Regions from separate parts of the Homo sapiens genome. Here region 1 is linked to region 2. Evidence: fine-mapped expression QTL. A gene starts in region 2. The other region holds a variant in brackets. All regions are shown on one strand. Distances are from middle to middle.

Region 1 (4,393 bases), 42 kb after region 2:
TGCCCAGGCTGGTCTCGAACTCCTCAGCTCAAGTGGTATGCCCACCTCAGCCTCCTGAAGTACTAAAATTACAGGTGTGAGCCACTGTGCCTGGCCCCAACTCATATTTGTGACTCCTCTTTAAGGAAGGGGTAGGCTTTTTTTTTAGGTTAACACTTGTTTTTTTTTATAGTTTAGCTACCTAATTAAAGTTAAACTATAACTTCCTTCAGAACACGTAATTATGTAGGCATTATTTATTCTCGTAATAAATCTTAACAGGTGTGCAAACATTTTAGCCAATATTAAAGCAACTGGAAGAAAGTTTTCTTTTGTTGTCTCATTTCCTCCTGACCATGTAACTTCTGTTTCAGTGACAGTGACATCAGATTGTCAACAAAACTATAAATGAGAAGCAGTATAAAGAAATGATGAAGATCAGGATAAAGAAACTACATTTTTGAATGTCACACTTTCCTATTGTAGCATCTCAAAACATACAAAACTTTCCAAACGAGTTTTTAACTTTTTTATTAAGAATATGCAATAATAGACAAAAGTATAAAAACATATATGTAGAGTTTTAAGAAAATAATTATAAAACAAACACCTGTATAACTACAAGAAAGAGACTGGATTTAGAAAAAGAAAATAACTGAGAAAAGAGAGAACATGATAGTAAATGTTCCCCTGTACTGTGGGTACATATGACCAATAAAGATTATAATATTGTCATCTATAGTAATATTTAGAACAGATTGAAACAAATTTAGGTGCAGAATAGCCTGGAGGTAAGGGAAAATACAATTATTTATATTTAAAGGTCATTTTCCTCTTAGTGTATCTATCTAACTTAGTGAATTCTCCAGCCATTCATAATAAAGATTCTATATTAAATGGCCAATGCTTTGGTATGTCTGAGCAGGAAGACCTAGCACGTACATACTAAAGTTCACCATTTGATCATTAAATCTCATTACCAAAGGCTATCTAAAGAAAATTTTAGGACCTACCCAACACAGATGGAATTGCACATTGTCTCATGGCTAATGGAGAATCTCAGAGAATTTGCAGAATAAGATATTCAGATAGTGGACTTTAATATACATCTGTAGGCCGGGCGCGGTGGCTCACACCTGTAATCCCTGCACTTTGGGAGGTCAAGGCGGGTGGATCACCTGAGGTTAGGAGTTCGAGACCAGCCTGGCCAACATGATGAAACCCTGTCTCTACTAAAAATACAAAAATTAGCTGGGTGTGGTGGCACGTGCCTGTAATCCCAGCTACTCAGGAGGCTGAGGCAGGATAATCACTTGAACCTGGGAGGTGGAGGTTGCAGTTAGCTGAGATCACACCACTGCACTCCATCCTGGGCAACAAGAGCAAAACTCCGTCTCAAAAAAAAAAACTGCAGGCCCGGCGTGGTCGCTCAGGACTGTAATCCCAGCATTTTGGGAGGCTGACGTGGGTGGATAGCCTGAGGTCAGCAGTTCAAGACCAGCCTGGCCAACATGGTGAAACCCCGTTTCTACTAAAAAATATAAAAATTGGCCAGGTGTGGTGGTAGACGCCTGTAATCCCAGCCACTCAGGAAGCTGAGGCAGAAGAATTGCTTGAACCCCAGAGGTGGAGGTTGCAGTGAGCTGAGATCTCACCACTGCACTCCAGCCTGGGCGACAAGATTGAAACTCCATCTCAAAAAAAATTGTAAAAAAGAAAGAAAAATCCCATTATAGAAATGTATACTTTAGGCTGGGTGTGGTGGCTCACGCCTGTAATCCCAGCACTTTGGGAGGCTGAGGCGAGTGGATCATGAGGTCAGGAGATCGAGACCATCCTGGCTAACACGGTGAAACCCCGTCTCTACTAAAAATACAAAAAATTAGCCGGGCGTGGTGGCGGGTGCCTGTAGTCCCAGCTACTTGGGAGGCTGAGGCAGGAGAATGGCATGAACCC[A/G]GGAGGCGGAGCTTGCAGTGAGCCGAGATTGTGCCACTGCACTCCAGCCTGGGCTACAGAGCAAGACTCTGTCTCAAAAAATAAATAAATAAATAAAAAGAAATGTAGACTTTAGAAAGTGAAAGTGTTCTAGAATCTTATCCCCTCTAGAGGATCACTACCAACAGTTTAATGGGTACTTTTCTAGATTTTTATATACATATTCTATGTTTACACTTATTAATATTATTTCTAGAAATGGCATTACACTGAGTGGTAACTTTTTTCATTAACCCATTATTCTGGGTATCATTCCACATCAGTAAATATACTTCTTCATCCCTTGTAATGACTGCATAGTATTGCATTTTACATGCATTATAATTTTATCTATCCAAGCCCCTTACTGATGTGCATTTAGGTTGCTTACAGTATTTTGTTATTATTAAAAAATGTTGGCTGGGTGTGGTGGCTCAAGCCTGTAATCCCAGCACTTTGGGAGGCCATGGTGGGTGGATCACCTGAGGTCAGGAGTTTGAGACCAGCCTGGCCAACATGGTGAAACCCAGTCTCCACTAAAAATACAAAAAAATTAGCCGGGCATGGTGGCCCGTGCCTGTAATCCCAGCTACTCAGGAGGGTGAGGCAGGAGAATCCTATGAATCCAGGAGGCAGAGGCTGCAGGGAGGTGAGTTCGTGCCACTGCACTCCAGCCTGGGCGGCAGAGTAAGACTCCATCTCAAGAAAAAAAAAAAAAAGTAAAGACGTATTCATTTGTGTGTGTATTTCTGTTGAATATCTAGAAGAAAATTCTGGGTCAAATATTACACATATTTAAACTTTAAAGATTGCACAATGGGAATTCAATAAATTCAGACAGTCAACACTTTATGCTGAATTTCCACTTAGTCAAGTATTCAAAGTGCCCTTCCTTATTCAAACTTCCTTGAAGACACACCTTAAAACAACTCTGAAGGTTAAAGATCTTAAAAGTTGCCTGCTTGGCAAAAAAAGAGGAAAGAAGGGCCGGGCGCGGTGGCTCACGCCTGTAATCCCAGCACTTTGGGAGGCCAAGGCGGGCGGATCACCTAAGGTCAGAGTTTGAGACCAGCCTGGCCAACATGGTGAAACACTGTCTCTACTAAAAATACAAAATTAGCCGGGTGTGGTGCCGCATGCCTGTAATCCCAGCTATTCGGGAGGCTGAGACAAGGAGAATCGCTTGAACCTGGGAGGCGGAGGTTGCAGTGAGCCGAGATCGCACCACTGCACTCCAACCTGGACAACGAGAGCAAAACTCCGTCTCAAAAAAAAAAAAAAAAAAAAAAGAGGAAAGAAAACAAAACAACTTAAAGCATCATTAAAAAATATGCTCATAAGGAGTTTTTAAAATAACATTAGAAAATACTTGTGATAAAGTTGAATGAAAAATAGCCAGATATATAATTGAGTATCCAGGATTATTACAATGATATAAAATAATGTCTACATTAAAACATGGCTTTTTAACCTTTCCAAATTATCTACAGTGAGAAAATATCACTTTTTAAAGGAAAATTTTCAGAAAAAAAGAACCCCTCCATCTCCCCAAGTCTGAAGATTTAACATTAAAATTGCTTCACCTTCCATGAGAGAAGAAATGTTATCATGTTGCTTTGAACCCTTTTATATCTGCCCAATTCCAAAGCCCAAGGAAAGTATAATGATCTTCAGGGGTTATCAAAAATTCTACAAGCAAAACTAATTTTATTATTTTTTTCCTCCTAAAAAATTACTCTAAGAAAATTTAGTGTACTGTTTGTCCTTGAATCACTCTATTAAAAGAGTGGTATTCAGGATTTGATGTAAATTCCTCTTTTACAAATTAATGTGATTCATCGAAACTCCAATTCCTATTTCTACATCCACACAGCTCATAAAGACATTTTATGTATGTATGTATGTATTTGAGACGGAGTCTCAATCTATCGCCCAGGCTGGAGTGCAGTGGCACAATCATGGCTCACTGCAACCTCTGCCTCCCAGGTTCAAGCGATTCTCCTGCCTCAGCCTCCCGAGTAGCTGGGATTACAGGGGCCTGCCACCACATTCAGTTAATTTTTGTATTTTTAGTAGAGACGGGACTTCATCATGTTGGCCAGGCTGGTCTCGAACTCCTGACCTCAGGTGATCCACCCACCTCAGCCTCCCAAAGTGCTGGGATTACAGGTGTGAGCCACTGCACCTGGCCAAGAGATTTTATAAAATAGATCAAGCATTAAAAGCCCACTCTGTTTAATCCTATTGGAGAATGAAGAACTGTGACCTGATGCTGTTCTGGTTTAACAGATAATTTCAGCCTGATCGTGAGGAAGGGATTATAAATATAGGCAAATGGACAGGATTTCTCAATGAATGAAATGAAGATTGAATCCTTTCAGGTTTATTTTAAAAGGTGGGTAGAAAGATGCAAAGCTAGTTACAATGATCAGTTTATTAG
Region 2 (4,393 bases):
CTGATTCATTTCAAGTTGAGGATTTATTTCTGTAGGAGAGATGGTTTGATCTTCTTCTGAAATGATGCATCCCAAAATTTATCTCTAATGCTTAAAAAGTGCACAATCCTAAAACCTCCAACATTCAAACAGGCAAATGCCTGGGGGCAGTCTGCATTTCAGTTTCTAACATCTTTCCCTCATTTCCCCACACACCCAAATGCTCCAATTTAGGCCTTAATTTCCTACATGGGAAATCAGGAGGGAATTGATACCACATCAGGGATTTACATTAATTTGACTTGCTCTTTTCAAATTTCAAATTCGCCTCTACTTCTGTTCAACAACAAAACCTCCAGAAAAGGATCCAGTAGAACCTCTACAGACTTCATTCGAAGAACCTCCTTTAGCTCCAAAGAAAGAGGGTAAGAGACTATGCCCCATACCCCTTTCTGGAGTCTCTTCATGAGGAAGTCGGAGCCTCCAGGCTTTTGTCCTAGGCTTGGGTATTTGGCCTTTAGCTTTGCCTCTTCAGCTCTCTCAGGCAGAATACCTTCTTTCTCCTGCGTGTCCTGGAGAAAACAAATGAGCCAAATAAAATTAAAGACTGAGAAACAACAGCTTCTCACATCTGATAACAACTATACTATCAACTTCTCCTGGAAATCCACCCACTTGTAAATACGCTATCTCTACTCTGCTGTTAAAGCTAGACCTTTGTTAAAATCCCTAAAGCTCAAGATGACTATTGTGAGAGAAAAAGACAAGCTGCTTCTCACACTTCACCCAAGGAACCAGCCAGGGACCTGTGCGTATTGGGCTAAAGGTAATACTAAACACAATACTTTAATCACAGAGTGGGCCATATCACTCAGCACAAATGCTAAGAAAGACAAAGAGAAAAAAGCAGGGCTTCTGGTGATAGAGGATGAGTAGCAGGGTTCCCTAGGCTATCCTACATGTCACATGAGAAATTAAAAAAAAAATAGTTTGGGGCTGGGAGCAGTGACTCATGCCTGTAATCCCAGCACTTTGGGAGGCTGAGGCAGGTGCATCACTTGAGCTCATGAATTCACTACCCGCCTGGGCAATATGTTGAAACCCCGTCTCTACAACAACAAAAAATAGTTTGCTAAATGTTTCCTCCTTATTTTTTTCTTTCTTTTTTAAAATTGCTACACGACAAAGCAGTTCCTTCTTTATTCAAGGTCTAAGCCACCTGTTAGGTCTCCCTGTGGAGGCGGCTAGCTATGTGGCCTTCTCCAAAGATCTCCACCTGAGTAATGGCACAGCCTTGCTTCAACATTTCCACAAATATTATGGTAGCAAGCTGATAAACAGAGAGGAAAATGATACTGTTTTTAACCTCAGGAAAACAAAGATACAGTAGGCTCACTAGTATTTACCCACCAGTTTTCATCAAAAAAATCAATACCTACCCTGGTGGTGCAGGGACTCTCACTACTGTAGTCAATCTCTTTTTTTTTTTTTTGTGGTCCCTGCTGCCCTTTAGTGACTTTTTGAAAAGATATGAAGTCAACGTATGACTCTTTTTAGTGGAATTATATTCCTTTCTCTTGGAAATTACGCATAGATATAACACCAAGTGTATTTAATGAGTACCTGAACCCAGTACTAAATTTTAAAAGTCAAATACAAACCCCAATAAGGGGTTTATTTGGCGTTAGTGTTTCCATCACGGAATCGCAGGTGCACTAAGTCCCTGCCTTGGAAGTCTAGGGGAAGAGAGAAGTGTCTTTCTCACGACCCTGTCGGCGTCTTTTCCAAGTTTAATTACCATGATTCTGTTTGGAACTCTAGCCCTCTTCAATATTGCTGGGTCCTCACTGAAGGTGAGCAATAGACCATCCTTAGCTACTAAAATAGGTCTCTTGAGAAAGTTGCCGCCTTAAACTAGCCATTATAATAACTACACTTCTCCCCTCCCCCAATACTGGTTTTTTTTTAAACGTCTTTACCTCGACCCCTATCTTTGCGGATTGAGGCTGCGGGCCCCAGCCCGGTTGCTGGGTCACTTACCTCTACAAACCAATAACACACATCACACCCAAGACCACCAGCCATCCCCTTTCCATTCACCGTCTTTCCAACCACCCGCCCCACGTCCATGCTCGGCCAATTATAGCACAGCGTCCAAGGTTTGAGCGGTAGGCCTATTGGCCAATCAGGAAGAGTACAGTACTGAGTGACAAACGACCCAACTAACCAGCGCCAAAGCAGCATGTCGTGTTGAAGCTCACCCAGCGTGACGCAAAAAGTGGCCAACCCCTGCGGAGCCTGAGACCATGGCGACCAATCCGCACTGGTGGGAGACCGTCTCCCGCCCCATCACGGTCTCCCCAGCTCGCCCGCCCGCACCCCTTCCACTTCACCTGCTTCTCCTCGCCGGTCTCCTCCGCAGGGTTCTCTTCTTCTTGTTTCTGGGACATGGCGGGACCGGGACTGTGGAGTGTAAGGGGCCCGGGAAGGCAACCGGAGAAGGGAAGGGGGAGGGGAAACGGGGACAACCTGCGCTGCTGCTTCGGCTCCTGTCACTAGGGTTGCTCAGTCAAAATGGCGGCCCTTGCCCGTGACGTTGCGACCGCCCCTTCCTATGAGAGCCAGTGGGAGTGAGGTAGATAGGGCAATGACGTAACGATCTACCAATAGTCGCCGTCTAAAGGTGGGCTCTATAGAGGCGACCGGCAAGCTGGAACACCAACCTGGAAAGAGAGTGAGCCACAAGGACCAATTGGAAGCCTGTGGGGGATATCGGGGGCGGGGCTGCTGGCTGTGGTACTTTTGCAGCTTTGGTGGGCTCCGGCTTCCTTCACTCCAGCCCACCGCGTCCGAGAGACTTAGCAGGGCGTCAAACTGGAGAGCGGAAGGATGGAACCTTTTATTCTCAGGTGGAGAGGATTAAGCTTTGCGGTGTTAGCAGAAAATGATCGAGCTCCAGAAAATGATTTGGAGGTCAGATTCGATTTTAAAGTAGTACTAACAGGCCGGGCGCGGTGCCTCACGCCTGTAATCCTAGCACTTTGGGAGGCCGAGGTGGGCGGATCACCTGAGGTTAGGAGTTCGAGACCAGCCTGACCAACATGGTGAAACCCCGTCTCTACTAAAAATACAAATATTAGCCGGGCGTGGTGGCGGGCGTTTGTAATCCCAATTACTTGGGAGGCTGAGGCAGGAGAATCGCTTGAACCCTGCAGGCGGAGGTTGCAGTGAGCCGAAATCGCGCCACTGCACTCCAGCCTGGGTGACAGGACGAGACTTTGTCGCGAAAAATAAAATAAAACGGTACCAATGGTATTACGATGTGTCACTTGGCCTGTGGAAGAGAGAGACTGAGTCTCAACCCGAGCTGTCTTGCAAAACACTAATGGCTTACGTTCCGTAGTTTCACTCTTATGTGTAGTTTTTATATTCCATCAGGGTGATCCCTTGGGGACTACGCTCCTTGAAACAAGGAGGACAGTGTAAGTATGTGGTAAACATTTGGTAAATACGGTTAATACTAGTTAACCTATCCAGAATTACAGTTTAACATTTCCTGGGCGTCTGTCTGTATGTGGATGGTACTGTGTTAGTTGGGGGGGGTACGTGTATAGTAAGGCAGTCTCTGCCCTTAGAAAGCTTACAGGCCTGGCTGGGCGCGGTGACTCACGCCTGTAATGCCAGCACTCTGGGAGGCGTAGGCGGGCGAATCACTTGAGGTCAGGAGTTCGAAACCAGCCTGGCCAACATGGTGAAACCCTGTCTCTACTAGAAATACAAAACAAGGCTGGGCACGGTGGCCCACGCATGTAATCCCAGCACCTTGGGAGGCCGATGAGGGTGGATCATGATGTCAGGCGATAGAAACCATCCTGGTCAACATGGAGAAACCCCGTCTCTACTAAAAATACAAAAATTAGCCAGGCGTGGTGGCGTGCACCTGTAGTCCCAGCTACTCAGGAGCCTGAGGCAGGAGAATCGCTTTTACCTGGGAGGCGGAGGTTGCAGTGAACCGAGATCGCATCTCGCCACTGAACTCCAGCCTGGGTGACAGTGAGAGTCCGTCTCAAAAAAAAAAAAAAAAAAAGAGTGGCAGATAAGAAGTGCTCTTTATGGAGATAATTTGGTGGTAATGAATAAAAAGACTCAGAATTCCAAGCAGAAAACTACCAGAGATGAACAGTCTAGCCGAGTCCTCTGCAAACGTTAGGTGGGAGATAATTAGGATTTAACCTAGAAACGTAGTAGTTAAGAATAGAAAATAGTGAACCTAACCAAGAGAGTCTGTGACAATGGAATCCACTAGACTAGCAGCTGACTGAATAGAGAATGAGAAGACTGTGTGCCTCAAGGTGATTATTTATAGAAACAATAAATTCAAGAAGAGGAGTCAATTTGGGAATGGAGCTGAAAA

Evidence for each region. PIP is the estimated chance that this variant, and not a neighbour inherited with it, causes the effect. A credible set is the group of variants that fine-mapping cannot tell apart.
Region 1: its variant is the best candidate, but not a certain one, in a credible set for the expression of ENSA in whole blood (TOPMed, PIP 0.61).

The regions. Positions count from the first base shown.
Region 1 is chr1:150,668,587-150,672,979 of GRCh38, forward strand. All of the region lies in intron 2 of GOLPH3L (golgi phosphoprotein 3 like), which reads right to left. Among named protein-coding and RNA genes, the nearest start is that of GOLPH3L, 26 kb to the right of the region's middle. The variant A/G (reference allele first, on the strand shown) is at 1,936.
Region 2 is chr1:150,627,042-150,631,434 of GRCh38, forward strand. ENSA (endosulfine alpha) reads right to left here and starts at 2,571. Exons shown (of 4, transcript NM_004436.4): 1 at 2,373-2,571; 2 at 426-551. The coding sequence starts at 2,429. It overlaps LOC112268239 (a long non-coding RNA gene), which reads left to right and starts at 2,778. Exons shown (of 2, transcript XR_007066603.1): 1 at 2,778-3,461. RefSeq lists enhancers at 2,286-2,555, 2,298-3,265, 3,266-4,235.